Linked DNA regions of Homo sapiens. The protein of the gene in region 1 purifies or fractionates together with the protein of each later gene. This does not show direct contact. Each region holds a gene or a part of one and is shown in the gene's direction. Other genes may lie near its edges.

Evidence for each region.
Region 2: the proteins of CCDC92 (region 1) and PAAF1 purify together in Homo sapiens (affinity purification with mass spectrometry; one large-scale study listed by BioGRID and IntAct). This does not show direct contact.
Region 3: the proteins of CCDC92 (region 1) and RGPD5 purify together in Homo sapiens (affinity purification with mass spectrometry, with the first as the bait; one large-scale study listed by BioGRID). This does not show direct contact.
Region 4: the proteins of CCDC92 (region 1) and RGPD8 purify together in Homo sapiens (affinity purification with mass spectrometry; one large-scale study listed by BioGRID and IntAct). This does not show direct contact.
Region 5: the proteins of CCDC92 (region 1) and PSMD5 purify together in Homo sapiens (affinity purification with mass spectrometry; one large-scale study listed by BioGRID and IntAct). This does not show direct contact.

Annotation. Positions count from the first base shown.
Region 1 is NC_000012.12:123,937,451-123,943,540, reverse strand, and holds part of CCDC92 (coiled-coil domain-containing protein 92), read left to right. Parts: intron 1-47; coding exon 48-194; intron 195-755; coding exon 756-797; intron 798-5,710; coding exon 5,711-6,090.
Region 2 is NC_000011.10:73,896,266-73,902,502, forward strand, and holds part of PAAF1 (proteasomal ATPase-associated factor 1), read left to right. Parts: intron 1-2,880; coding exon 2,881-2,979; intron 2,980-4,004; coding exon 4,005-4,155; intron 4,156-6,237. UniProt on the Homo sapiens protein: Inhibits proteasome 26S assembly and proteolytic activity by impairing the association of the 19S regulatory complex with the 20S core.
Region 3 is NC_000002.12:109,830,855-109,837,091, forward strand, and holds part of RGPD5 (RANBP2-like and GRIP domain-containing protein 5/6), read left to right. Parts: intron 1-462; coding exon 463-598; intron 599-1,996; coding exon of another isoform or gene 1,997-2,109; exon of another isoform or gene 2,110-2,165; intron 2,166-4,142; coding exon 4,143-4,237; intron 4,238-4,964; coding exon 4,965-6,237.
Region 4 is NC_000002.12:112,390,906-112,397,142, reverse strand, and holds part of RGPD8 (RANBP2-like and GRIP domain-containing protein 8), read left to right. Parts: intron 1-2,389; coding exon 2,390-2,525; intron 2,526-3,923; coding exon of another isoform or gene 3,924-4,036; intron 4,037-6,073; coding exon 6,074-6,168; intron 6,169-6,237.
Region 5 is NC_000009.12:120,814,595-120,820,701, reverse strand, and holds the end of PSMD5 (26S proteasome non-ATPase regulatory subunit 5), read left to right. Parts: intron 1-2,538; coding exon 2,539-2,796; 3' UTR 2,797-4,649; downstream 4,650-6,107. UniProt on the Homo sapiens protein: Acts as a chaperone during the assembly of the 26S proteasome, specifically of the base subcomplex of the PA700/19S regulatory complex (RC).

The DNA of each region.
Region 1 (6,090 bases):
CTGGGACCCTCTTCAGGCACCGCAGCCAGGGTCTGTGTTACCCACAGGTCCTCTGGATGTCAGCATGGCAGCCACAAACCTGGAGAACCAGCTGCACAGCGCACAGAAGAACCTCCTGTTCCTTCAGCGGGAGCATGCCAGCACGCTCAAGGGGCTGCACTCCGAGATCAGGCGGCTGCAGCAGCACTGCACAGGTACATCGGGGAGCAGGCCCGGGCAGGCGGGGGGCGGCTATGGGGCACGGCAGAGCCCAGCGTCAGAATGTGCTAGGCCTGCCCTGCCCCCAGCTCCCATCATCGTTGCAGGAGTCCATCTGAATGCCTTATATCATCCTCATTGCATAATCAAGATGCACTAAGCATAAAGCTGCAAAGCCTTTTCTTGGCATACTGAGGACTTAAGAGATTAAAATACAATGGTTAGAATCTCCAATGTGTTTTGGAACTGATAACCAAGATATAGCCTGTGTGATACATAGAGCCAGCTGCTGGATTGTTTGGTTTGGATGGTTGGGATATGCTGTGGGGGAATGGGGAAGGGAGTTTGGGGGAACAGAGGGTGCCCTCTGACCCCAGGGAGCACAGTGGCCGCAGATGTTTTCTGCTGCTCTCATGCTCACCTCTCCTGCTGCCAAACCCTGCTCTGTCTGGGTAGGACTCGCTGGCTAATCGTGGGAATCGGTTTTGCATTTTCAAAGCTGATGAAGATTTTGAAATGTACAGTAAAAGAATTAATGTGTAACATTTCCCTTTTAGATTTAACATATGAGCTGACAGTCAAAAGTTCGGAACAGACAGGTAAGAACTCCTCCCCAGAAGTAAATGACAGTAGGTTTCCCTTTGTGGTACGTGTTGGTGCCGTTTTCACTAGTCACACACTTAGGAGAAAATGCTCTTGCTGGGAAGAGTTATGCGTGTGGCCTGAGCTCTCTAAGAGAAGATGAGAAGGATGTTTGGATCCCTCCGTGTTGCAAGTGGTTATTAGTGGGCAGGGGGATGAGTGATTTTGTTTTCTTTTGAATGACACATATATTTGGAATGCCTATTATATGTTTTTCTGATTTTCCTACAATGAACATGTGTTCCTTGTGTAATCAGGACATAAAAATAGACGTGAGTTAAACCCAAAAGGAGGAGTAACAGCAGCAGCAGCATTGGGCAGAACCGCCCCCGCTCCTCCGTGTCGCTGCCGCCTAGCATGGGCCTGGCACAGAGCAGCAGCTTGCTAAATGCTGGCGGGCGAGTGGTCACATTACTAGACAGCTCCCTGAGGATCTGGGGCTTTCTCTGGACTACAGCCCCAGAACCCTCCCCAAACCAGAATCCTCCAGGACCTCAGGAAACCCCAAAGGGCAGCTGCCTGCTGGCCGCCAGAGAAGAGACAGAAACCCAGGCCTTCCCAGGGCCCTCTGTGCCTGCTGCAAAGAGCCTGCTCCCTAAAACAGGGTGGGTGTTTGGAAAGTGCTGAATCCATGTTTGTGCAGAGACACCTGTTGGAAACGGGTTTATCACGTCGGGAAGGCAATGGATGGCTCAGCAAGGCTAGTTTACTTTCTGCAGAAAGGGTGCAACTCGCCAGCAGTCTTACCACGAGAGCACACTCAAACAAAGGAGACGAGGACATTTATAATCTTCATAACCTGATGCAATTGCCCTATGACTGTGTCCAGTTTCCATTGACTGGAATGGGACCTCACATTCTAAGCTTGACCCGATTGGCTAACAGCTTGAAACTTTCCTAAATAGGCAAAAGGGAAAGAGGACAAAGAAAAGAGGAAGCTAGTCATGAGAGGGTCAGGAGAGTTTCCAAATAAGGAAGAGCATGCACTATGGTCCAGGGCTCGCTCAGCCCTGCGCAGGCGTGCCGGGGCAAGGCGGAGCAGCTACACTGGAACATATATAGAGATATACATAGAGCAAGGAAATGACAAGCTCTTTATGGTTTCAAGAAACTTTGAAGAACTTCTCCATTCCCCACAATGCCTTTTTCTAAACAGGCCTCACAATGGCAGTTACTATTCATGAGAGTGTCCAGTTCCTTGTAAAAGACACAGACCATTTCCACCAAGCCTTAGTGGATTACCGAGCACTGATTTTTTTCCATTTGCATTGCTCATATTACAGCCTCCTGAGTGCGCCACCCAGGAGCCCAGACATCTTTTTGTCTGCGTGTGGTAGGGAAGGCGCCGTGGGCTTCTTGGGGTGGTGGAATGGGAGCCTGTCCTCAGAAGTCTCCCTGTGGAGGGATACCAGGGACCTCCCCCGAAGCCCTGGGACTGGGAGCTGGGCCTGTGGGAATGCAGAGGAACAGGATTTCAGCCTGACACTAGGGACCTCCAGCGTCCACACCTGCCAGCACTGAAGCCTTGGGAAAGGAGCTACCCGTGTCATGGAAGCCAGGGCGTCCTCGCTCCCTGTCCTCTCCTGGCCCAGGCTAATCTGAAGCAGCATAGTTTTGCCCTGTGGCCTCTCCAGTCACGGTTCTCAACCTGAGGTCCCAAGGCCACCTGCCCACCCACCCACCCACCTGATGTAGTACTCCCAGCAGCAGCAGGGTCTCACAGCAAGGGCTGTGTCTTAGGGGAGGCAGTTTCAAAAGCCTCTCAGGTGGTTCCAGTCGGGGCGTCTCCCCTCCCAGTGGTGAAAATCATTGTTTTACATTAGTGCACCCAAAACTGCCCAATTCCAAGCAGTTTCGGGACCCAGGGTACAGCATAGACTCTTGGCTTCCCTCCCCTGGGGGCTGTGACCCCAGAAGTCTGGGCGGGCCCAGGGAGTGCGCAGGTTTAGAAGCGTTGCAGTGCCCTGACGCTCGGGCAGGCTCAGCAGTGCAGCGTTTGGAGACCAGCAGCAGTTGGCTGCTGTCAGCTCAGTGTGCACCAAGCTTTCATGGGAAGACTGAAATTTCCAGAAAGGGGGTACGTACAGAGGAGGAGGTGGAGTGGAGCTTTCTATAAAGAGCAAGAAATTGGCAAAACAGGAGGTGCTGATTCCTGGGAAGGACAGTCACTGAAGCAGCTCTCCAGAGCTGGGGATGGAGGAGCAGTCGTACCAGCTCCTTCCCACAGGACGGCCCACTCAAGTCGGGGCCGGTAAACATCAGCCCGGAGCCAAGGCTGCACCCTGGAGGAGGAGGCAGCACAGCTAGATGACTCTCAAGGAAGGATGATGAGGAGGATGTCTATCCAGGAGGAGCTTCTCTCAGGATGCTGTGGCGAAAAGAACCAGAGTGATGCTTAATGAGCCCCAGATTTGGGCCTCTGCTCTGACTCGGAGGGGCTGTGTGGCCTTGGGCAGGTTCTTTGACATCTCTGAACCTGCATCTTCATCTGACAGGTGCCCCACAAATCCAAGTCCCCAGTCCGACCACCAGGGCCCTCTGCCTTTGTGGGCTGCCCCTCACAGGACATGAGCAAAGCCCAGGGACAGCCTTGTTCCTGAATGTTCCAAACGTCCATCAGCCTTTTGCAGCACTGCCTGGGGGAAGAAAAATCCCAGGATGCTCACAGCAGGCCAGGGATGTGGTTGAAGGTCTGAGGTTGCAGCCCTTCCTCGGAAGGAGCCCAAGGCCCACTGTCCACCCGAGTGTGGGCTGAAAGCAAAGGCCCTGCGACAGGCATGGGTTGTTGTCCCACAGGCCCTGGGGGAAGGACAGCGGGTACCAGGCCCAATGCCGTGCCCAGGTCAGCATTTCAGGTTGCAGGGGTTCAGCCCAGGTGGCTGGGCTCCTGGGTCTTACAGTGTCTACAGAGTCGTGTGTGTGTCTCTGTCCCTCTCTCTACCTCTGAAACTGTGTTTTAGGATCTATTTTCCTTTTGGCAAAAGAAGAAACCTCATGAAAGGTAGTACTGCATGCATCCTTTTTAGGGAGGTCATTTGCTGACATTATACCTGCACATACACACACAGACACATGGTTTTTAAAACTAGAAACTTGCAATGGTTCAACTTAAAATTTTTCAACTGCATGGGGCAATACCCATTCAGTACACTCCTCGACTTACCATGGATATGTCCAGATAAACCCATGGTAAGCTGAAAATATCGAAAACACACTTTTGACTTACGGTATTTTCAACTTACATTGGATTTTTCGGGACATGACCCCATGCTAAGTCGAGGAGCGCCCATCACCTGCAGCGAGCTTGTAACATGCAAGTGTCCTGCACAAGACCAGTCCAGTCAGCTGTGGGCCCTCAAAAGCTCAGAGTCTGGCGGCGGGACATGCTGCAGAGCTGCTGCTAGCTCAGGCAGGTGGGAAAATTCAAAGCAAGACAGACAGAAGCCCGGGAAAGACGTCCAGTGGCGTCCAGTGCCTAGGCAGGCCCTGGGTGGTGGAGTTGGTACAGGGAAACTGGGCGTGCAGGTCTGGAGTTAGGGCAAGGACAGAGGGTACAATAGAGACAGAACAAGAGGTGGTGGCTTGGGGAGAGTGATGGAAGCTTTGATTTATGTGGGAGCAGATAACATTCAGGACAGATTGAGGAACTGGAAGGCATCTGGCAGTTTGGGTTTTATTAGGCAGTGAGGAACCATTTTGAACAGAGGACAAGAATATTTAGGGGGTGACCAAGCTTCCTAAATACAGGATGGGCTGAAACGAAGACCAGAGAGGAGGTGGGACCAAGGCCGGCTGGAGGAGCAGGGAGGGGGCAGCACTGAGCAGCCAGCAGAAAGGCACAGTCAGGGAGGGGAGGCCAGGGATGGCGACTGCATCCAGTTTCCCTGGGAGAGTCAAGATGTGGGAAGCAGAGCAGCTATCTGGACTTGAGGGTGTGTCTGACGGACACTCACTTGGAGAAGTGGTGCTCAGGAGACACTGAATCGGGAGCTGATGCTCAAGTTGAATTCCAGACCAGCAAGGAAGAGTCTAGAAAGAACTTCCCAGGGGCCAGGCAAGGAGGATGGCCAGCCAGCCAGCGTTAGGAGGAGTAGGATGGTGACCCAGGGTTTAGAGCCAAGGGTGCTATGTGAGGTGACCAGGGACTGCAGGTCACCAGAAGAGCAGGAGAAGGAGGTGGCTGGTGTTTGCTGAAGGACTGGGTGAGGGCAGGCACCCAGGGACAGCAAAAGGAGGCAGAGGCCCGAAGTGTTAGGGCAGGGGCAGGGAGGGACCAAGGGTAAGAGCCACAGAGGCGAGACAGCTCACTCTCTGAGCAGGAAGTGGGAAAGAGTCTGTGTGTGTGTGTGTGTGAGAGAGACGGGGGTAGGGGGGTGAGAGAGGCGGCCAGCGGCAGAGCAAAGGTGACAGCCCCACACCTCTTCTCCTCTAAACATCAGAATTTTAATTCAATAGACATGGATAATTCTTTTTACATTTGAGTTTCAAAACAGTACTTTGAATGTAGCAGGCATTCCATAAATGCCATCTGAGCAGACAGAGGGATTTGCGGCCAGTTGAATCCTAAGTGTTTGCTGAGGTCTGATACTCTGCAATTGCCTGTTTTAAGTTCAGCATCTTTAAGGTTCAGAGACATTCTTTTATGCAGTAGGCCAGAGAACTAAGAGCCGGAAAGGGCCTCTGAGATGCCCCGATCTCCCCACCTCGGGGAGGGGAGGGGTCTTTCCAGAGCCCCCACAGCCCTGCCTTCTGCATGGCCCCCACAGCCTAGACAGGGCCCCCACCAGACAGGTCCGCCTGCCCCATAGGCCTCACCACTCGGCCTCAGTCTAATGAGTTCTTCACCTGCTTCCTCGGCTTATTCTTGTAGGAGACGGGACTTCTAAAAGCAGTGAATTAAAGAAAAGATGTGAAGAGCTGGAAGCCCAACTGAAAGTGAAAGAGAACGAAAATGCTGAGTTGTTGAAAGAACTGGAGCAGAAAAACGCGATGATCACAGTGCTGGAGAACACCATCAAGGAGCGAGAGAAGAAGTACCTGGAGGAGCTGAAGGCCAAGAGTCACAAGCTGACCCTGCTGTCTAGCGAGCTGGAGCAGCGGGCCAGCACCATCGCCTACCTGACCTCCCAGCTGCACGCCGCCAAGAAGAAGCTCATGAGCTCCAGCGGGACCTCAGATGCCAGCCCGTCAGGGAGCCCCGTGCTGGCCAGCTACAAGCCAGCGCCCCCCAAAGACAAGCTACCCGAAACG
Region 2 (6,237 bases), on another chromosome or scaffold:
TTTTACGATGTTTCTTTTTTTCTTTTTTTCTTTTTTATTTATTTTTTTTTTTATTGATCATTCTTGGGTGTTTCTCGCAGAGGGGGATTTGGCAGGGTCACAGGACAATAGTGGAGAGAAGGTCAGCAGATAAACAAGTGAACAAAGGTCTCTGGTTTTCCTAGGCAGAGGACCCTGCGGCCTTCCGCAGTGTTTGTGTCCCTGGGTACTTGAGATTAGGGAGTGGTGATGACTCTTAAGGAGCATGCTGCCTTCAAGCATCTGTTTAACAAAGCACATCTTGCACCGCCCTTAATCCATTCAACCCTGAGTGGATACAGCACATGTTTCAGAGAGCACAGGGTTGGGGGTAAGGTCACCGATCAACAGGATCCCAAGGCAGAAGAATTTTTCTTAGTACGGAACAAAATGAAAAGTCTCCCATGTCTACCTCTTTCTACACAGACACGGCAACCATCCGATTCTCAATCTTTTCCCCACCTTTCCCCCCTTTCTATTCTACAAAACCGCCATTGTCCTCATGGCCCGTTCTCAATGAGCTGTTGGGTACACCTCCCAGACGGGGTGGTGGCCGGGCAGAGGGGCTCCTCACTTCCCAGTAGGCGCGGCCAGGCAGAGGCGCCCCTCACCTCCCGGACGGGGCGGCTGGCCGGACGGGGGGGCTGACCCCCCAGACCTCCCTCCCCGACGGGGCGGCTGGCCGGGCGGGGGGGCTGACCCCCCCACCTCCCTCCTGGACGGGGCGGCTGGCCGGGCAGAGGGGCTCCTCACTTCCCAGTAGGGGCGGCCGGGCAGAGGCGCCCCTCACCTCCCAGACGGGGCGGCTGGCCGGGCAGAGTGGCTCCTCACTTCCCAGTAGGGGCGGCCGGGCAGAGGCGCCCCTCACCTCCCGGACGGGGCGGCTGGCCGTGCGGGGGGCTGACCCCCCCACCTCCCTCCCGGACGGGGCGGCTGGCCGGGCGGGGGGCTGACCCCCCCCACCTCCCTCCCGGACGGGGCGGCTGGCCGTGTGGGGGGCTGACCCCCCCACTTCCCTCCCGGACGAGGTGGCTGCCAGGCGGAGACGCTCCTCACTTCCCAGACGGGGTGGCTGCTGGGCGGAGGGGCTCCTCACTTCTCAGACGGGGTGGCTGCTGGGCGGAGGGGCTCCTCACTTCTCAGACGGGGCGGTTGCCAGGCAGAGGGTCTCCTCACTTCTCAGACGGGGCGGCCGGGCAGAGACGCTCCTCACATCCCGGACAGGGTGGCAGGGCAGAGGTGCTCCCCACATCTCAGACGATGGGCGGCCGGGCAGAGACGCTCCTCACTTCCCAGATGTGATGGCGGCCGGGAAGAGGCGCTCCTCACTTCCTAGATGGGATGGCGGCCGGGCAGAGAGGCTCCTCACTTTCCAGACTGGGCGGCCGGGCAGAGAGGCTCCTCACTTTCCAGACTGGGCAGCCAGGCAGAGGGGCTCCTCACATCCCAGAAGATGGGCGGCCAGGCAGAGATGCTCCTCACTTCCCAGACAGGGTGGCGGCCGGGCAGAGGCTGCAATCTCGGCACTTTGGGAGGCCAAGGCAGGCTGCTGGGAGGTGGAGGTTGTAGCGAGCCGAGATCACACCACTGCACTCCAGCCTGGGGCACCATTGAGCACTGAGTGAACGAGACTCCGTCTGCAATCCCGGCACCTCGGGAGGCCGAGGCTGGCGGATCACTCATGGTTAGGAGCTGCAGACCAGCCCAGCCAACACAGCGAATCCCCGTCTCCACCAAAAAAACACGAAAACCAGTCAGGCGTGGCGGCGCGCGCCTGCAATTGCAGGCACTCGGCAAGCTGAGGCAGGAGAATCAGGCAGGGAGGTTGCAGTGAGCTGAGATGGCAGCAGTACCGTCCAGCTGGGCATCAGAGGGAGACCGTGGAAAGAGAGGGAGAGGGAGACCGTGGGGAGAGGGAGGGGGAGGGGAAGGGGGAGGGAGAGGGAGAGGGAGAGGGAGAGGGAGAAGGAGAGGGAGAGGGAGAGGAATAGCTGAACTCTTGAATCCTCCTGGTGCATCTTAGAACATTATCTTTTGTGTAAGTGGGTTCCTAAGAATTAGGAGAGGTATCTTAATTTTCTTTTTATTTTTTATATTTACTTTAAAATTTTTTGTAGAGATGGAGTCTCATTATATTGCCCAGGCTGGTCTCGAACTCCTGGGCTCAAGTAATCTTCCTGCCTTGGCCTCCCAGAGTGTTGGGATTACACAGGTGTGAGCCACTGCACCTGGTCTTAATTTTAAAATAAAATAGCAGGGCTGGGCACGGTGGCCTATAATCCCAGCACTCTGGGAGGCTGAGATGGGAGAATCACTTGAGCTCAGGAGTTTGAGACTAACTTGGGCAACATGGTGAAACTCTGTCTCTACCGAAAAATACAGAAATAAGGCACAGTGGTGTGCGCCTGTAGTCCCAGCTACTCGGGAGGCTGAGGCAGGAGAATCACTTGAGCCTGGGAGGCAGAGGTTGCAGTGAGCTGAGATGGGGACATTGCACTCCAGCCTGGGTGATGGGAGTGAAACTCTGTCAAACAAACAAACAAACAAACAAATAAATAAATGCAACACATGGAAACTATGGAAATGAAATGGGGATAGGGAAAACTTTTTAGCTGAAGCATTAGACTTCAGATGATTAGAGGAATATCTTTTTGTTTGAAGAAGTAAAAGGTGTTTACTTCAGCCTTGTTGGGAGGTTGGTGATGATAACTCAACCTTTACATCAAACACAAGTCCTTTTGTTGGGAAACACAGGCTTCAGGAAGTCTTGGAAGAGTGAAAAAAGGGAAGTTTATAACATATTTCAAGGGAATAAGAGTATTTCATTATTTCTAACACATTGTTTGTTTTCTCTTTGAACAGATAACATGCCTGGACATTTCCAGCAGAGGAGGTCTTGGTGTGTCTTCTAGTACTGACGGGACCATGAAAATCTGGCAGGCTTCCAATGGAGAACTCAGGGTAAAGGATTTGGATGTACTTTTAGGTCTTAAACACAAAGGGTGGTCTGAGAAGCCTTGGACTGGGACATGGAAGGAAGAATGGCCCATTCTAAAAATGTGGGACCACTCTGCATGTCAGTTGATCTCTTTTCTCCCATTTGTGTGTTTCTTTTTCTTTTTCTCTTTTTTTTTTTTTTTTTTTTTTTGAGACAGTCTTGCTGTGTTGCCCAGGCTGGAGTGCAGTGGTGTGATCTCAGCTCACTGCAACCTCCGCCTCCTGGGTTCAAGCGATTCTTGTGCCTCAGCCTCCCAAGTAGCTGAGATTACAGGCATGTGCCACCACACACATCTAATTTTTGTATTTTTAGTAGAGATGGGCTTTCGCCATGTCGGCCAGGCTGGTTTCCAACTCCTCACGTCAAGTGATCTGCCCACCTTGGCCTCCCAAAGTGCTGGGATTACAGGTGTGAGCCACCGCTCCTGGCCTCTCAGCTGTCAATTCGAGAACCTTTCTCAAGCTCAGTGATTTGGCAGAACAGAGTGGGGCTGGAGCAGTTAAGGAGCCAGACCAGTGAAGGTCTAAGTGGGTGTGCCCTTGTTTTTTAATTGCCTTCAGTGATCCATTTCCAAGACAGAATAGCTTGGCTGTTAGACTGAATCTATGGCTGAGCCTCCAACCTTTACAAAGGATTTTAAACAGAGATGAGTGAAAAAGTCCCCAAGCCACCTCAGCTCTTTAACTAGATCTAGAGATGGCTGTGAAAGCCATGGAATTCTTTTTTTTTTTTTTTAACCTAGGCTCTGGGGTGTTTTTACATGGAATTCAGTTCTATAACCTCTATAGCTGAATTCGAGGAAACACCTTTTAGAACACTGCCTGCTAGACAAATGAGCTAAGAGATCCTTTGGATATCCTTAGTTTTAAAACCCAGCATGTGGGTTTAGCATGTAGGTATTTCATATAAGGGACCAGAGTATGGGAGGTAAGAGAACATCAAGGGATGGACAAGAGAACTAGCATGGAATTTTCTTTTGTTTTTCCAGAGAGTATTGGAAGGACATGTGTTTGATGTGAATTGTTGCAGGTTTTTCCCATCAGGCCTTGTGGTCCTGAGTGGGGGAATGGATGCCCAGCTGAAGATATGGTCAGCTGAAGATGCTAGCTGCGTGGTGACCTTCAAAGGTCACAAAGGAGGTATGAAGTGTGCTTTCTCCAAAAGGCTTCTCTAATGATCCCCAGAAATGAATCACTGAAAAGGTAGAAACAAGCTAGTTTATTCACAAATACACAAATAATCCATCCAGCTGGGCATTTAGATGAGCTGCCATTTCCCTAAGGACCAGAAATTCCTTTGCCACACAGTCTTTTTATTGCTATCTTGAACTGTCTTACACAGTTGGTTTGATACCTAAAGCCTTTTCCAGCTGGGTGCAGTGGTGCATGCCTGTAATCCCAGCTTTAAAAGTTGTTTTCTGGCCGGGCGCGGTGGCTCACGCCTGTAATCCCAGCACTTTGGGAGGCCGAGGCGGGCGGATCACGAGGTCAGGAGATGGAGACCATCCCGGCTAAAACGGTGAAACCCCGTCTCTACTAAAAATACAAAAAATTAGCCGGGCGTAGTGGCGGGCGCCTGTAGTCCCAGCTACTTGGGAGGCTGAGGCAGGAGAATGGCGTGAACCCGGGAGGCGGAGCTTGCAGTGAGCCGAGATCCCGCCACTGCACTCCAACCTGGGCGACAGAGCGAGACTCCGTCTCAAAAAAAAAAAAAAAAAAAAAAAAAAAAAAAAAGTTGTTTTCTACAATTGATAAAGGAAAAAAAAAATCCTCTCCAGGAAATCGTATACTTGTGTGCTGGGAAATAGAGAGAGAGAGTGAGAGAAAAGGAGATGTGTCTGCATTTTCTCATATTAGTCTTTTTGGCTGAGGGAACAGTAAAAGCTGGGTGGCTAATGGCTGCATCATCAGACATTATGATAGAGCTTGATGATTCCCATAGATTTAAATTACAGTTCGTGTTTTAAAAATGGATTAGCCATATAACCAGTTAATATCAGATTATAGATATACAGTGGGAACATCTTCCCTTTGTAACTGAGTTTTGTGGGGAAAAAATATTATTTAGGTATGTTTTATCCTTAATTGGAGTATTAAAAAGGAGATAAGTATGCTATTCCTATTTTACAAGTTTGAATATTTTAAAAATATGTGATAATATCCCCAAATAATTCCTTGATCCTTCTTCTGGAACCATAATACATATTGCGTGTACCACTCATTTGGGAATTAATTTGTATTGCCCTCTACTTCTGGGATTTTTAACTCTGTGTTTTTGTGAACCTCAGTACATTGTAACTTGTGTGTGGAGATCAAGTTTTAAGATTTTTTTTTTTTTTTAAGATGGAGTCTCACTCTGTCGCCTAGGCCGGAGTCCAGTGGCATGATCTCAGCTCAGTGTAACCTCTGCTTCCCAAGTAGCTGGGACTACGGGTACACGCCCCACACCTGGCTAATTTTTGTATTTTTAGTAGAGATGGGGTTTCACCATATTGGTCAGGCTGGTCTCAAACTCTTGACCTCAGGGTGATCCACCAGCCTCGGCCTCCCAAAGTGCTGGGATAACAGGCATTAGCCACTGCGCCTTGCCTTTTTTTTTTTTTTTTTTTAGTTTCGCTTGTTGCCCAGTCTGGAGTGCAGTGATGCCAGCTCGGCTCACTGCAACCTCCCCATCCCAGGCTCATGCGATCCTTGTGCCTCAGCTTCTCAAGTAGCTGGGATCACAGGCGTGCACCACCACATCCAACTAATTTTTGTATTTTTTAGTAGAGATGGGGTTTCGCTGTGTTGGCTGGGCTGGTCTTAAACTGGCCTCAAGTGATCTGCCTACCTTGGCCTCCCAAAGTGCTGGGATTACAGGTATGAGCCACTGCGCCTGGCCCAAGTTTTAAGTTTTAATATTTCTTTATAACATTTTGCCAGATTACATGCTGATGTTTTAGCAAACACACACATTAACCTAAGTACATAAATGGTTTACTTCCATGATGTAAGAAAACGGGTACATTGAGAGGGAATAGAAACAATATTCAGAGCCTTCCTTACATTACTGAAGAACTCATCACCTCCTGAAGAACTGAGAGATTGAAGGAGTCAGAATGGCCTACAGATCTGGGGAGTCCAGGAGCCAAAGTAGTCTAGAGGAACAGTGCAAGCTTCACCTCCGATCTGGCCATCCCTCTGAAGGTGTGGGCACAGGAAAACATTTCAGTGGAACAAGTC
Region 3 (6,237 bases), on another chromosome or scaffold:
AATCAGCACCAGGTACCTAGAACTCTTTGGCAAATAGAAACTTTCAAAAGATATAATCAGGTCCGGGCGTGGTGGGTCACACCTATAATCCCAGCACTTTGGGAGGCTGAGGTGGTGGATCACTTGAGGTCAGGAGTTCAAGACTAGCCTGGCAAACATGGTGAAACCCCATCTCTACTATTATACCAAAAATTAGCCGGGCGTGCTGGCTGACGCCTGTAATCCCAGCTACTCGGGAGGCTGAGGTGGGAGAATTGCTTGAGCCCAGGAGGTGGAGGTTGCGGTGAGCCAAGATTGTGCCATTGCACTCCAGCCTGGACGACAGATCGAGACACCATCTCAAAAAAGAAAAAAAGAAAAAATCAGTTATTTAAATTTAAAAGAGTAAGTTTCCCCAGCACTGTTTCTGGCATGATATAATTAAATGATTAAAATTATTTGATTTTTTTTTTCTTCCAATAGAAAGAAATGCAGGAGTTGAAACTAAATAGCAGTAAGTCAGCATCCCGTCATCGTTGGCCCACAGAGAATTATGGACCAGACTCGGTGCCTGATGGATATCAGGGGTCACAGACATTTCATGGGGCTCCACTAACAGGTGAGCTGGCAAGTGGATAATCGCATATTTTAGTAAAACTACTTTACTTCCCTCTTTTAAGTAGATAACGTGTGAAATCACCTTGTTTATATATGTTTGTTAATATACATGTCAACGTCTGTTTATATGTGACTTCAAAAGCTGTATTAGGTGTTACGGAGATTTTTATAATCCCAAGCAGAAAAAACGAGCCGTATGTGATCACGTGTATATAAAGGCTTAAAGAACACTTAATCCACACCTCAGATGAGCTGAGATGAGATTATTCCTTAAATTGCAAAATGTTATTGAATAGAGTTATGCACTAAGAAATGCTTAATTAAGAACCTACACCTCTGGGGAATTATTTTGATGATAATGATGAGAGGCAGGACGTTATATAGGAAATCTTACTTAATTTGAAATATTATGGTTATATAAAGAAAGAAAAGGAGTTTGGACCTGAATCATACTGGGTTTTTAAGTTCTGCTCTATCACTTACTATAATAGCTGTGTAAGTTAACCTGTCTGAAATGTGGAGATAATACTTGCCTTACATAATTACTATGAGCATTTGTGTATGTGCAGGTGGGCGTGGGTGTGTATCAGACATTTATTAGAGTATACAGTAAACAGTTAATGAACTAAGGTTACTAATAGTGTTTACTGTGGGTTGGCTGTGTGCAAAAGTGCTGTGTGAATGTAATTTGATTTAATTACAGTAACTTAGAATGGCCGGTACCATTATTAATCCCTTTTTTATAAATAAGGAAATGGATAAAGAAAGGTTAGGTAACTTACTCATTATTATACAGCTAGTTATTGATAGAGCCGAGATTCACACTCCAGTGGTGTAACTCCAAAGCACTTGCCAGTATAATACATTGCTCCCAGGCAGCCAGAAATAACAAAATTGTTCCTTTTACGTACGACAGACTTCTGAAATGGTAGTAGTAGTGCCCTTTTTTTTTTTCTCTTTTTAGCCCAGGAAAGATTTAGAAAAAAATCTAGTTTAGATGAGCACATTTGTGTGATGGTTCCTATAGTTAAGGCAACCCCACTAGCCTTTTGTGATAGTATCTTCTCAACACAAGCAAAATAACAGAAAATCTTTGTGAAGTCAAGCTTATTAAATGTCGTAAGTCATAGATAAGTATATGAAATGTCTAACGTTCAAACCTTGTTTTCTTAAAACCTTACACATCATATAGGTCCTTGTAAGAGGATAAACAAACCGGCTAGCCTTTCCTGGGGCTTTTTTAGTGATGTGTGCAGTCAGTTATTTGGTGCCTTGTGGGTCATGATTTCCATTTCTTCTGTGTACAGGCATAAAAGGTCTTCTGTTCTTATACAAGCATGTAAATCCAACATTCTCATTGTCTCATTTTATTCTTGCAATGACCCTGTGAAATGTGTAGAAGCAGCACATCGTCATTTTACAATTGAGAAACATGGAGACTCCAAATGGATTATTTACAGGTTCACAAAACAGCTTTGTGGCACTGAAAGGGCGAGAGCCAAGATCTCCTGATTTCTGTTCCTGTGTTCATAGATTCTTTTTCCTTAATAAAAGTAAACATATATCAAGATGGTCCTTGTTTTTTTAAAATAAGATGATTAAAATTAAAGATTAATGAGCTCATAGGAGATACTCAGAAGTACTGAACAGGGTGAAGAAAACTAAAAGCTAACCACCTCATTAACATTTCTTATATTTGAGAGCATTTCCTTCTGGTTCTTTCTCTATACATATAGTATTTTTTATGAGATTGTTACCATGTTACTATGTTGTGTGTAGATGAGCTAGCCTGTTTTTAAAATGTTACTTTAGTTCTGAGCATTTTTAAACTTAAATGTTTTTTGAATATTAATGAGTTCATGGTATCCCATCACATGGAAGTACTGTAAATTCTGTTCCTTTATTTATGTTGTTTCTGGTTTATGCCATTACAAATTCTAGGACACTGTCCTAGTTTTGTAGGGTATTCAAAATATTCAGTTTATGCTCTTACCGCTAGTATCTGATAGTGCCATTTTCGCACTTTTGCTAATGCTGACTTACTAGTTTATAAAATCCTTTGCCAATTTGTAGGAACAAAAGTGATATCAATTTTTAAGTTTTTTTAATACTAGTCATGCTCAACAATTCATGCAAATGGCAGTTGGTAGTTTTGCCATCTTCAACGTACCTTCCAGTTGTTTGGTTTCTTGGTAAAACTCACACAAAACAGATGGAGAAGAGTTTTTGTATATCAACATGAATGTTAATGTGATTTTTTTAAAGCCAACGAACACATTTGTGTTCCTTGTGAGATCCTGTGCGTGAATTTGTCAGGTAATTTTTTTGACCTGAACATTCTCATAATAGCTTCAATTTGCACAATGCAACCTCGTCATTTTGCAGATTTTCAAGGCTCACTTCAAAAACATGTTCCTTGAGGCCTATTAACATTTCTTTCCTAAATTGTCTATTCATATGGTGCTTTAAAAAATTAGATTACTTTTAGTAGATTTATTAGAGCCGCACAGTTTAGAGTCAGTAGTCAATTAAAGTCCCTACTTAAACTTCAGACTAAGATTTTTTTTTATTTAATATTTTATTTTTTCTTTTTGCTTTCATGCAGACAGACATCTTGCAAGACTTTAAGATTCTTGGGCCATTTCTGTCAGGTTGTTCTGTGTTCTGTGCCTGCTTCCTCCCCATAGTAATTTCAAAATAGCTATCCTCACCTCTGTAAGGTTTCCGAAATCAAACTTGGGCTTCTGGCTAGCCTTTTCTAGGTCTTGATTTTTCAGTGCTTTCCAGAGGCAATTGTTTGGAACCTCTTGGCACAGTTTCTGTTTCTCCTTCCATGTACAGGCATAAAAGGTCTTTTGGTTGTTTTCTGGTAAAACTATCATAAAACAGTTCAAGCAAATGACTATTGGTAGTTTTGTCATTAACATGGGTGCCTTCTAGTCATTTTGTTTCCTGGTAAAACAGACCAAACAGAGGGAGCAGACAGTTTGTACATCTGTATGAGTGTTGATGTGCTTTTTATTTTAAGCCAGGGAACACATTTTATGTTATTTATGACATCCTTTCCATGAATTTGTCAGGTGATTTTTGAGCTGAACATTCTGAGTAATAGCTTTAGTTTACAAAATACAACCTAGTCTTTCTGCAGATTTTCTAGGCCCACTTCAAATGCATTGACTATCAGATGGCATCTTGGTTCCTTACGTCCTTTCTGTGACTGAATGTCCATAATTCCACATCATACTGATCTTTCTTAGAAAAGGCAACAGTTACTATCTTCTTTATTCCTTTTTTAATGCTTGCGAGGTAGTTCTTGTTGATCACAGCGATGCTATTCTCTCATTCTTCATGTCATATTTAGCAATTTTTTTCTAGTTTGTCATTTGATAATCTTGATTGGTGTATTTTGATGTACAGAAATTTAAAATTTATGTAGTTAAATCTTTCTTTAACTTCTATTGCTTTTGTATTTATAGCTCTTGCCTAGATAGTCTTAACTGTAGTATAGACTTTAACAGTGTTTTCTTTTCTTTTTTTTTTTTCAGTTGCAACTACTGGCCCTTCAGTATATTATAGTCAGTCACCAGCATATAATTCCCAGTATCTTCTCAGACCAGCAGCTAATGTTACTCCCACAAAGGTAACAAAGGAATAATTTATACATTTATAATTATTTTCTTTTTAAATTGTTTAGGGTTCCTTCAAATAAATTCAAGAGAGCAGTTCACTATTAAAACTTTTATGTCCCTTAAAATGTAGATATTTTAAATTTATCTCCAAATACAGAAATTATCCTTCTTAGTCACCTTATTTTTGTGTTAGTAAGTGTGAATATTTAGAATATTTTAAAAATGGGAGTGGTGGTGGTGGATCCTTCATCGTTCTGTTTTAACAGAAATAGAACTGTAATGCCCTTGCTGACCCACTATGTGGTAAGTACTTTCAGGCCTGATACAGCTATATATATAACAATTGATTGAAGACTCAATATTACAGTGGTAGTTGAATGTGACAGCTTTGAGGACAGAGTGTTGGGGTGCATTTAGACCCTTGCTCTTCTGCTTATTTTGACCACAGGCAAGTTTCTTAACCTCTCAATGCATCAGTTGCCTCATATGTAAAATGAGGATAATAATAATACCTTAATTCATAGGGTTTTTGAGGATATTAAAATGAGATAATAATGTAAAGTGCTTAGAACAGTGCCCAGCTGGCACATTAATGAATGCTCAATAAATGTTATCATCATCATCATCATCATTATTGTTAACATCATTTGATAAATTGTTTAGGAATGAAGAAGGTATTTATTTCATGACTATTTTGGGCATGTGGATCAAGAAAATTCACCTTCATTTATGTTTCAGGGTTCTTCTAATACAGAATTTAAGTCAACCAAAGAAGGATTTTCCATCCCTGTGTCTGCTGATGGATTTAAATTTGGCATTTCGGAACCAGGAAATCAAGAAAAGAAAAGGGAAAAGCCTCTTGAAAATGATACTGGCTTCCAGGCTCAGGATATTAGTGGCCGGAAGAAGGGCCGTGGTGTGATTTTTGGCCAAACAAGTAGCACTTTTACATTTGCAGATGTTGCAAAATCAACTTCAGGAGAAGGATTTCAGTTTGGCAAAAAAGACCTCAATTTCAAGGGATTTTCAGGTGCTGGAGAAAAATTATTCTCATCACGATACGGTAAAATGGCCAATAAAGCAAACACTTCCGGTGACTTTGAGAAAGATGATGATGCCTATAAGACTGAGGACAGCGATGACATCCATTTTGAACCAGTAGTTCAAATGCCTGAAAAAGTAGAACTTGTAACAGGAGAAGAAGGTGAAAAAGTTCTGTATTCACAGGGGGTAAAACTATTTAGATTTGATGCTGAGGTAAGGCAGTGGAAAGAAAGGGGCTTGGGGAACTTAAAAATTCTCAAAAACGAGGTCAATGGCAAACTAAGAATGCTGATGCGAAGAGAACAAGTACTAAAAGTGTGTGCTAATCATTGGATAACGACTACAATGAACCTGAAGCCCCTCTCTGGATCAGATAGAGCATGGATGTGGTCAGCCAGTGATTTCTCTGACGGTGATGCCAAACTAGAGCGGTTGGCAGCAAAATTTAAAACACCAGAGCTGGCTGAAGAATTCAAGCAGAAATTTGAGGAATGCCAGCGGCTTCTGTTAGACATACCACTTCAAACTCCCCATAAACTTGTAGATACTGGCAGAGCTGCCAAGTTAATACAGAGAGCTGAAGAAATGAAGAGTGGACTGAAAGATTTCAAAACATTTTTGACAAATGATCAAACAAAAGTCACTGAGGAAGAAAATAAGGGTTCAGGTACAGGTGCGGCCGGTGCCTCAGACACAACAATAAAACCCAATGCTGAAAACACTGGGCCCACATTAGAATGGGATAACTATGACTTAAGGGAAGATGCTTTGGATGATAGTGTCAGTAGTAGCTCAGTACATGCTTCTCCATTGGCAAGTAGCCCTGTGAGAAAAAATCTTTTCCGCTTTGATGAGTCAACAACAGGATCTAACTTCAGTTTTAAATCTGCTTTGAGTCTATCTAAGTCTCCTGCCAAGTTGAATCAGAGTGGGACTTCAGTTGGCACTGATGAAGAATCTGTTGTTA
Region 4 (6,237 bases), on another chromosome or scaffold:
TTGAAAGTACTTTATGTGTCTCTCTCCTCATCTTCCACAAAATTTGAGACCTTCAAAGGTAGAAACTGTTTTATTTAAAATATAAGAGTTCCTGACACAGAGAAGGTTCCCGAGTGATTGAAGTGCTACAATGTACTAATCATACTCTGGTCTATGAGTTCATTCCCAGATTAGCTGTGGATTACATGTGTTTCAAATGTATAGCTAGGAATCGAAAAGTGGTCTGAGCTTCAAAAAGTCTTACTATATTTTAATACTTCCATATGAATTTGACTTAATTATGTAAGGAAATAGTTATGTATATATATCTTATTTTAACAATAGGGTTCAAAGGAGCTTGACTTTTTTGGAATTGGAAATAAAAGTAGGTTCTTTCATGTTTATCAAGCAAGAACTAAATTACTCATACTGCTAAAGTTACATCAAGGATATGCTGATGTGTGGCGATTATTACAGTGTGATCAGCAGCATTTGCAAATTAAGAGAATACTATTTGGTGGGGAAGACATTTTTGAATTTGCACAAAAATTTTGAATGTTAATTCTGTGTAGTCGTGGCCTATGACAATTACATACAATTTTGACTTAACATACAGGTTTCAGGCTCCCAACATTGTATTCTGTGGAAGTATAGTGGAGCACTAGTCCATGAGCTTGAAAAGCTTGGTACTAGTACTGACTCTGCCATTAATTAATGATCTTGGGCCAGTCACTTCCTTTGTGACTGTTTGGCTTCTTATCTTTAAAATGAGAGAATTATTGAAGCCAGTTCTCATCACACTGAATGTTAAAAATTACAGTTACAGCAGTGATTGCAAATTCAAAGCTCTGGTGCGGATACCAACAGTGACTATAAAGTTTTCTAGGTGATTCCACTAGTTTCTTATTTCTTGGATGTGTATGTGTAGCATCTGGACTAGGCACTGTAGATGGATGAATGGGGGAAATTTTATTTAGCTTGAAAATTGAGATAGTTTTGGACCTCATGGTTAGGTCTTTCTGGGAAATTTTTAATTGAAACACTTGTAGAAACAGAAAGCAGACATGCTAGATCTGTCCCTGACCTCACTTGTTAGAACTGATCGGATTCCTGGGCTGATACAGAGAAGTTTGAAACTTTTCAAAATTTACCTGTTTTCTGATACCACTACAATTTCTTTGGAAAAAGAATTTCCTGTTAAGTGTCTGTTTTGTAAGGGGACATTTTGTAGGTTCTAGGGTGTTGGGTATGGTGCTGTCATTTAGTTTTCTTCAGCAGAGATCAGGTAGCCACATAGCTACACTAGACGGCATTGGATCTATCTGCCATCTTGTCAAGGCAGCAGAGTTGTGTTAAGAAAACATTTTTGGAGTCAGATGTGTTTCAAATTCCAGCTGTTATTCCCTGCATCCGTTTCTCTCATTTTAAGATAGGAGCTAATATTGTTTACCTAACAGTGTAGATGGTGTAAAAATTAAGAGTTTAAGTGCATTGGACGTATTATTATATACATAATAAATTCTCTGCAGCTACTACTTTTTTCCCTTTCCTGGTGGAGCATTTGAACATCACCTTGAGAATTAGTTGTATTTTGTTTGAACACAGGGTTAAGTGAAAAGCTAATTTGGGGAGGTGATTTGGAATGTCAGGTAGTCCAGGTTGCAGTGTAGAAAGAACACACTGAAAGGATGGTCAGTGTAATGTTAGAGGACTGTGAAAGTTGGGGAAAGAAGTTTAGTTTGTAGGTACTTGTTTTTTTGAGCAGGGAATTGTCTTGGCTGGAGGTGAACGTCAGAAAGGTTAATGTAGGCAAGTGTAGAATGGAAATGAAGGTGTGATCATTTAGGAGGTTATTTGTTTAGGTGAGAGAGTTAATGAATTAGGTTTTGTATTAACGAATGAAAATGGGAGCAGATAAATTTTTAACAAATTAAGAATCATATTTTAAAATCAGCACCAGGTACCTAGAACTCTTTGGCAAATAGAAACTTTCAAAAGATATAATCAGGTCCGGGCGTGGTGGGTCACACCTATAATCCCAGCACTTTGGGAGGCTGAGGTGGTGGATCACTTGAGGTCAGGAGTTCAAGACTAGCCTGGCAAACATGGTGAAACCCCATCTCTACTATTATACCAAAAATTAGCCGGGCGTGCTGGCTGACGCCTGTAATCCCAGCTACTCGGGAGGCTGAGGTGGGAGAATTGCTTGAGCCCAGGAGGTGGAGGTTGCGGTGAGCCAAGATTGTGCCATTGCACTCCAGCCTGGACGACAGATCGAGACACCATCTCAAAAAAGAAAAAAAGAAAAAATCAGTTATTTAAATTTAAAAGAGTAAGTTTCCCCAGCACTGTTTCTGGCATGATATAATTAAATGATTAAAATTATTTGATTTTTTTTTTCTTCCAATAGAAAGAAATGCAGGAGTTGAAACTAAATAGCAGTAAGTCAGCATCCCGTCATCGTTGGCCCACAGAGAATTATGGACCAGACTCGGTGCCTGATGGATATCAGGGGTCACAGACATTTCATGGGGCTCCACTAACAGGTGAGCTGGCAAGTGGATAATCGCATATTTTAGTAAAACTACTTTACTTCCCTCTTTTAAGTAGATAACGTGTGAAATCACCTTGTTTATATATGTTTGTTAATATACATGTCAACGTCTGTTTATATGTGACTTCAAAAGCTGTATTAGGTGTTACGGAGATTTTTATAATCCCAAGCAGAAAAAACGAGCCGTATGTGATCACGTGTATATAAAGGCTTAAAGAACACTTAATCCACACCTCAGATGAGCTGAGATGAGATTATTCCTTAAATTGCAAAATGTTATTGAATAGAGTTATGCACTAAGAAATGCTTAATTAAGAACCTACACCTCTGGGGAATTATTTTGATGATAATGATGAGAGGCAGGACGTTATATAGGAAATCTTACTTAATTTGAAATATTATGGTTATATAAAGAAAGAAAAGGAGTTTGGACCTGAATCATACTGGGTTTTTAAGTTCTGCTCTATCACTTACTATAATAGCTGTGTAAGTTAACCTGTCTGAAATGTGGAGATAATACTTGCCTTACATAATTACTATGAGCATTTGTGTATGTGCAGGTGGGCGTGGGTGTGTATCAGACATTTATTAGAGTATACAGTAAACAGTTAATGAACTAAGGTTACTAATAGTGTTTACTGTGGGTTGGCTGTGTGCAAAAGTGCTGTGTGAATGTAATTTGATTTAATTACAGTAACTTAGAATGGCCGGCACCATTATTAATCCCTTTTTTATAAATAAGGAAATGGATAAAGAAAGGTTAGGTAACTTACTCATTATTATACAGCTAGTTATTGATAGAGCCGAGATTCACACTCCAGTGGTGTAACTCCAAAGCACTTGCCAGTATAATACATTGCTCCCAGGCAGCCAGAAATAACAAAATTGTTCCTTTTACGTACGACAGACTTCTGAAATGGTAGTAGTAGTGCCCTTTTTTTTTTTCTCTTTTTAGCCCAGGAAAGATTTAGAAAAAAATCTAGTTTAGATGAGCACATTTGTGTGATGGTTCCTATAGTTAAGGCAACCCCACTAGCCTTTTGTGATAGTATCTTCTCAACACAAGCAAAATAACAGAAAATCTTTGTGAAGTCAAGCTTATTAAATGTCGTAAGTCATAGATAAGTATATGAAATGTCTAACGTTCAAACCTTGTTTTCTTAAAACCTTACACATCATATAGGTCCTTGTAAGAGGATAAACAAACCGGCTAGCCTTTCCTGGGGCTTTTTTAGTGATGTGTGCAGTCAGTTATTTGGTGCCTTGTGGGTCATGATTTCCATTTCTTCTGTGTACAGGCATAAAAGGTCTTCTGTTCTTATACAAGCATGTAAATCCAACATTCTCATTGTCTCATTTTATTCTTGCAATGACCCTGTGAAATGTGTAGAAGCAGCACATCGTCATTTTACAATTGAGAAACATGGAGACTCCAAATGGATTATTTACAGGTTCACAAAACAGCTTTGTGGCACTGAAAGGGCGAGAGCCAAGATCTCCTGATTTCTGTTCCTGTGTTCATAGATTCTTTTTCCTTAATAAAAGTAAACATATATCAAGATGGTCCTTGTTTTTTTAAAATAAGATGATTAAAATTAAAGATTAATGAGCTCATAGGAGATACTCAGAAGTACTGAACAGGGTGAAGAAAACTAAAAGCTAACCACCTTATTAACATTTCTTATATTTGAGAGCATTTCCTTCTGGTTCTTTCTCTATACATATAGTATTTTTTATGAGATTGTTACCATGTTACTATGTTGTGTGTAGATGAGCTAGCCTGTTTTTAAAATGTTACTTTAGTTCTGAGCATTTTTAAACTTAAATGTTTTTTGAATATTAATGAGTTCATGGTATCCCATCACATGGAAGTACTGTAAATTCTGTTCCTTTATTTATGTTGTTTCTGGTTTATGCCATTACAAATTCTAGGACACTGTCCTAGTTTTGTAGGGTATTCAAAATATTCAGTTTATGCTCTTACCGCTAGTATCTGATAGTGCCATTTTCGCACTTTTGCTAATGCTGACTTACTAGTTTATAAAATCCTTTGCCAATTTGTAGGAACAAAAGTGATATCAATTTTTAAGTTTTTTTAATACTAGTCATGCTCAACAATTCATGCAAATGGCAGTTGGTAGTTTTGCCATCTTCAACGTACCTTCCAGTTGTTTGGTTTCTTGGTAAAACTCACACAAAACAGATGGAGAAGAGTTTTTGTATATCAACATGAATGTTAATGTGATTTTTTTAAAGCCAACGAACACATTTGTGTTCCTTGTGAGATCCTGTGCGTGAATTTGTCAGGTAATTTTTTTGACCTGAACATTCTCATAATAGCTTCAATTTGCACAATGCAACCTCGTCATTTTGCAGATTTTCAAGGCTCACTTCAAAAACATGTTCCTTGAGGCCTATTAACATTTCTTTCCTAAATTGTCTATTCATATGGTGCTTTAAAAAATTAGATTACTTTTAGTAGATTTATTAGAGCCGCACAGTTTAGAGTCAGTAGTCAATTAAAGTCCCTACTTAAACTTCAGACTAAGATTTTTTTTTATTTAATATTTTATTTTTTCTTTTTGCTTTCATGCAGACAGACATCTTGCAAGACTTTAAGATTCTTGGGCCATTTCTGTCAGGTTGTTCTGTGTTCTGTGCCTGCTTCCTCCCCATAGTAATTTCAAAATAGCTATCCTCACCTCTGTAAGGTTTCCGAAATCAAACTTGGGCTTCTGGCTAGCCTTTTCTAGGTCTTGATTTTTCAGTGCTTTCCAGAGGCAATTGTTTGGAACCTCTTGGCACAGTTTCTGTTTCTTCTTCCATGTACAGGCATAAAAGGTCTTTTGGTTGTTTTCTGGTAAAACTATCATAAAACAGTTCAAGCAAATGACTATTGGTAGTTTTGTCATTAACATGGGTGCCTTCTAGTCATTTTGTTTCCTGGCAAAACAGACCAAACAGAGGGAGCAGACAGTTTGTACATCTGTATGAGTGTTGATGTGCTTTTTATTTTAAGCCAGGGAACACATTTTATGTTATTTATGACATCCTTTCCATGAATTTGTCAGGTGATTTTTGAGCTGAACATTCTCAGTAATAGCTTTAGTTTACAAAATACAACCTAGTCTTTCTGCAGATTTTCTAGGCCCACTTCAAATGCATTGACTATCAGATGGCATCTTGGTTCCTTACGTCCTTTCTGTGACTGAATGTCCATAATTCCACATCATACTGATCTTTCTTAGAAAAGGCAACAGTTACTATCTTCTTTATTCCTTTTTTAATGCTTGCGAGGTAGTTCTTGTTGATCACAGCGATGCTATTCTCTCATTCTTCATGTCATATTTAGCAATTTTTTTCTAGTTTGTCATTTGATAATCTTGATTGGTGTATTTTGATGTACAGAAATTTAAAATTTATGTAGTTAAATCTTTCTTTAATTTCTATTGCTTTTGTATTTATAGCTCTTGCCTAGATAGTCTTAACTGTAGTATAGACTTTAACAGTGTTTTCTTTCTTTTCTTTTTTTTTTTTCAGTTGCAACTACTGGCCCTTCAGTATATTATAGTCAGTCACCAGCATATAATTCCCAGTATCTTCTCAGACCAGCAGCTAATGTTACTCCCACAAAGGTAACAAAGGAATAATTTATACATTTATAATTATTTTCTTTTTAAATTGTTTAGGGTTCCTTCAAATAA
Region 5 (6,107 bases), on another chromosome or scaffold:
ACTAAGTAAGGAGACAGATGTGTAAACAGATTGTTTCAGTAAAAGATATTAGGTGCTGTTTGAGGTTTGAACAGGATGCTATGGGATCACACAGTTAATTCCAGACTTTTTATCTGCCATCCTCTATTAACCTAGCCCTGGTCTTCCTAATCCTTATTTCCCGTGCAGAAAATAAGGCTTCTGGCACCTAATGCTCCAGTGGTACCAAACTGTTTGTTTTGTGTCTCTGGACCTTTGCTGGGGTCTCCGTATCTAACACTCTTCCTTAACTTTGCTTCTTAACCTCTTACTCACTCGTCAAGGACTAACTCCTTGTCTTCAGCACACTTTGCCCAGATTGACAAGGTTGAGTTAAACAATGTTGGTTCTCATATGTTGCATTTATTTATTCAGCAAATATTTGTTGAGTTTCCGTTTTTGCTCAGTGAAGGGCATACAACAGTGAAGAAAATATATAAAGACCTTCCTTTCATGTAGTTTCCTGTCTATTGAAGGAGCCAGGCAGTAAATATAATTGTACAGTTACTTATATAATTACAGCTGTGGTAAGGATTATACCTTTGTGTTCTATTTGTTATATTATTTTGCAAATGTTTATTTATCGACTTGTCTTACCTATTAAGTAGAGTTGGCTGAGAGCAGGAAGCATATCTGATTTATCTTTGTAGCCCCAGCATAGCAAGATAGTAATCGCTTTAGTAATCATATCAATAATGGGATCTCAGACAGCATACATGGCCTAGACTGGGAGGGAATAAGGAAAATGGCAGGGACAAAAGAGGGAAGGCTTCCTGAGGATGCGATACAGGATCTGGGTCTTGAAGGATACAGGTATTCCTATAATCTTCAGAAACATTTTTTTTTTTGAGACAGAGTCTCGCTCTGTCGCCCAGGCTGGAATGCAGTGGCGTGATCTTGGCTCACTGCAAGCACCACCTCCCGGGTTCACGCCATTCTCCTGCCTCAGCCTCCCGAGCAGCTAGCCTACGGGCGCCCACCACCATGCCCGACTAATTTCTTTTTGTATTTCTAGTAGAGACGGGGTTTCACTGTGTTAGCCAGGATGGTCTCGATCTCCTGACCTTGTGATCCGCCCGCCTCGGCCTCCCAGAGTGCTGGGATTACAGGCGTGAGCCACCGCGCCTAGCCAGAAACATTTCTTTAAGACTGCTTCACCCTTGTAAATGGTCATTGTATGAGATGGCCATTTTGGATCCTGCTTAGTATTTTCATTATTAGTTTATTTTGGTTTTGCTCTTCTACCTTATCCTGTGCTTAGCTGGTTCCATTGTAGAAATAATTTTCTATTTACTGGTTGGGATAACTATTTTTATTTCTGCCTACTTTCATGCTTGGTTGTGAAGCAGGCCAAAGTTTCTCAAACATTAATCTTAGGAATCTTATTAAAATGTAGATTCTAATTCAGTAGTTGTGGGGCAGAGCCTGGGATCCTGAAAGTCTAACAAGCTCGCAGGTGTTGCTGATGCTACTTGTCTGTGGAACACATTTTGAGAGGAAAAAACTAGGCCATAAACTTGTTACTTCTTTTTCATTAAAACGTAATAGGTTTTGAAAAACTTAATCTTAAAATTTGGAAAAGACTTAGAAGTAGAATTTTTTAAAATCACAGAAAGTTCTACCTTTTGGTGTATTTCCTTTTAGTTTTTGTATTAGTGTGTGTTTATTTTTGGTGAAATATTTCAAATATAGTTGTATCTTGCTACCTCTGCCCAGTCCTATTCCCCTTCCTCTGTTCTTAGATAAAATCACTATCACAAAGTCAGGGCCCATAAATGATTTCATATTTCTACTACATATTGTGTGTATCCTTAAATAAAACACAGTATTTTAGATATTCATAAACTTTGTAAGTGGTATCATGCTGTTTGTATCATTCCATTAGGTTGGTGCAAAAGTAATTGCAGTTTTTGCTTTTTTTTTTTTTCTCTTCAATGTTACGTTTTTTTAAAATTTGTCTATGTTAAAAGAGGCAGTTAGAAAGTTGGTATTTCATTGAATAGCCACAATATATCATTCTCCTATAAATGAAGATTTAGATAGTATCTTACAAATGATACCACAATGAACATTCTTGAAAATGTTTGTGCACTATATGAGTATCTTGAGGTTAGTCTTTTCTACTTTAGTTTTTATTTTTCCACTGTTGTAATCATGCATTGTTTATAATTTGAATCTGCTTTTTTTATATAACAGGTTTACCTGTATCATTTCCTATTTTTTGTAAACATTATTGTTAATGTTTATTTTTATTGCTATATACCATAATTTACTTAACCATTCTCCCATTATTAGATATTTATATTGTAACTTTCACACTATTATGAACATTTTTGTATACAAAGATTTTTCATATTTAAGATTATTTTATTAAGTTAGATTCTCAGGAAGGAATTTACTTAGACAAAAGGTAACATTTTTAAAGTTCATGTTGCCAGATTTCTTTGTAAATATTGTGCCATCCCATTAACAAACAACTTCCACTCAGGGGAATTGTATTCTTTCTGCCTTCCATTTCAGGCCATTGCAAACCAACCCTGGGCTCAGAAACTTATGTTTAACAGTCCAGGTTTTGTAGAATATGTGGTGGACCGGTCTGTGGAGCATGACAAAGCTTCAAAGGATGCCAAATATGAACTAGTGAAAGCACTTGCCAATTCCAAGACAATTGCAGAAATCTTTGGGAACCCAAATTATTTGAGGCTCAGAACTTACCTGAGTGAAGGGCCATACTATGTGAAACCTGTTTCCACGACAGCAGTAGAAGGAGCCGAATGATTTCTTCTAGAGCTCATGTAGAGGACCACGTTTTGACCAAAACTTCTCCTAAGGCATTTGACTCCATCTATATTTCACAAAAGAGACTTCCTTTCCCCAAGAATTATCATGGAATGTCAGATGTTACTTTGTTACCAACACTGTTATATTTCTACATTGAAATGCAAAGTGGAACTAGGAGTTTGGAATGCATTAAGAGCAGACAAGCTTGGTCATAATAGATCCAGTGTTTTTCAGATTCCTTTCACTGCCTTAATCTTTGCAACAGGGTGGAAGTTTTTTTCTTCCCTCAAAATTTTCATGGACATGCAATCTTATCTAAAAGCCTGCTTCAGGGCTGGGCGCGGTGGCTAACACCTATAATTCCCAGCACTTTGGGAGGCCAAGATGGGCAAATCACTTGAGTCTAGGAGTTCAAGACCAGCCTGGCCAATATGGCAAAACCCTGTCTCTACTAAAAATATAAAATCAGCCAGGCATGGTGGCGCACACCTATAATCTCAGCTACTCAGGAGGCTGAGGCACGAGAATCGCTTGAGCCTGGGAGGCAGAGGTTGCAGTGAGCTGAGATCTTGCCACTGCACACCAGCCTGGGCAACACAGCAAGACTCTGTCTCAAAAATAAATGAATAAAATAAAAACCTGCCACCAAATTATTTCTGGATTCTCTTCACTATCTTTTTTTTTCTTTTTGGTCCTTTTTCCATTTCTGATTCCACTTTCAAAGTCTTGGATATATTCTTTGAAAAATGAGTAGTATGGAATATTAAGATTATGTTCCTTATACTCAGAATACTTTTTATGAGCTCTCTTGTTTTTTTGTTACTATTATTCCTTTGAAAAAAAGACAAAATATCTAAAAAATGTTTATAGTGTTCATGTAATTTTTTTTGCTGTTTACCAATGAACTTTGCCCTGTTGTGGTTTTGGGGGATCAGAAGGATTCCTAAACTGTCATTTCATTTATTGGTAGGTCATGATTGCTGAGGGTTTTGCTTTGGATTTTTCATACCTATAAAGTCAATCTTGAGTTGATCAGAGAAAGGGAAACTTACTCCTAATAAACAGACTCAGAACAGAAGGGACATATGCATAAATCAGGATACCATCTCATTAATTTACAAAGGATAATCTTTCTTTTCATTGACAACACCTACACCCACCTGTTTTCCAGTGTTCTTCTCTCTAAACAGCAAAGCCAAAGCACTCTGCACACCAAATCACCTGTTCAGAGGTTTATGCATGAGCATATTTCTTTTAGGCCGTGGTGAAGTTGATAAACCACCCCTGCTTTGTAACAAAATTATTTTAAAGTGACTGGAATTATCTAGTCCCCAGATTGATCATCTCCCCTGGCAACGTGACTCTGTTTTTTGTGTGTGTTTCCATGCTGACTAGTCCCCTACTGTTAATATCACTACTAATTAGGCTATAACCAGGTCTTTCCTGGCCTGAGAAATATTCTCTTAAAATGACCTTTGTTTTAATCTCATTCATGATGTTGATTTTTTTTCAATGTGGTGCAATATATACAATAAAATTTGTCATAACTATTTTAAGTGTACAGTTCAGTATATTACATATGTTCATAAGTTGTACAACCATCACCACCATCCATCTTCAGAATTATTTTCATCTTATACAATTGAAACTGTATTCATTAAACAATAACTGTCTATTCCCTCTTTTCCCCAGCCTCTGGCAACCACCATTCTGCTTCATGACATTGATTTTATTCACTTAACATCAGATTTTGGGGGGATGCCCTCTCTCCTATGTATGGTCTACACATTCTGATTTTTTTTTTAGATTGAATAAAATTTGTAAATCATTATTTTCATTTCATAAGTAAACACCTGTTGACTGCCTATTATGTTCTTGGGATTGGGGAAGGTGCTAGACATTGGCCTAAGTGCCAAGTGCATCTCATTTAATTTTTACATCCCTGTTTCACAGATGAGGAAACCAAGACTTTAGTAGCTTATCTGAAAATCACACAAGAAGAAAGTGTCTTATATTGGAAGAAAATAGGTCAATAGAAAATTAGAGAGTATAAGAAGTACAATAATAGAGGAAAACAGAAAACACGTCCCCTGACTTTAGGAAATGTTTTCCAGGGAAGGAAACACCTGCATCTTGAAGAACTAGTAGGAGGCAATCAAGTGAAGAATACAGTGGAGTAGCAAAGCAAGACAGCAGGTACACATGAAAACAAGAGAACATGTTTGAGAAACTACAAGTAATTCAATATGACCAACGCCTAGGATTTAAAGGGAAATTTTTGCAAAATTCTTTATCATTATTACTAATAATAGCTACCATTTCTTAGCATTGATTTTATGTTAGGCACTTGGCATGCATTTCTTACTTTATCATCATAATAGCCATAAAAGTTACGTATCATTTCACAGACAAAGGCACTAAACTGGGAAATTAAGTACTTTGTACAGGTCGCAAAGCCAGAATATTAATCTGATTTTCTGAGGATTAGTTGTACTCCCCTTTTGTCACTTGGTTATATTTTGAAGGTAATAGTAGCTAACAGTTACTGAGTTTTTAATGTGTCCCAAGCATTTTCTAAGAGGTTTTCATGTATGAACTCATGTGGCCATCGTCACACTTCCAGGAGTTATATAACAAAACCAAGGCACAGCAAAATTCAGGAACTTGCACGGGATCGCATAGCAAATAAGAGAAGTCAACATTTCAACCTAGGCTGTTTAACATAGAATATATGTTCCTAAATACTGCCTCTTCCTCTTAGTGAACATTTACTATGGACCAAATCCATTGACAAACACTTGACATATCTCATGTAGACCATCAACCACACAAAGATTGAGTTTGTACATAAACAGGGTCAGGATGACTTAACAACATATCAAAAAATCTGGTCTAATAAGTGTCATGGCAGGGACTTTCAAGGTATATAACTTTGGGAACACCTAAAAATCTCAAGAGCCCCAAGATGGGAACTACTGATCTAATCATTACACAAGAGAAATCAGAAAGTGTGTGTTGTGGGTTGAATAATGTTCCCCAAAAATATGTGTTCAAGTTCAGGTACCCCCAGTACCTGTGAACATGATCATATTCCTCAATGGAGAGGAAGCCAGGTGCAGTGGTCACGCCTGTAATCCCAGCACTTTGGGAGGCGGAGGCGGGTATATCACCTGAGGTCAGGAGTTCAAGACCAGCCTGGCCAGCATGGTGAAACCCCATCTACTAAACAGAAAAATTAGCTGGGCATGGTGGCACATGCCTGTAGTCCCAGCTACTTAGGAGGCTGAGGCAGGAGAATTGCTTGAACC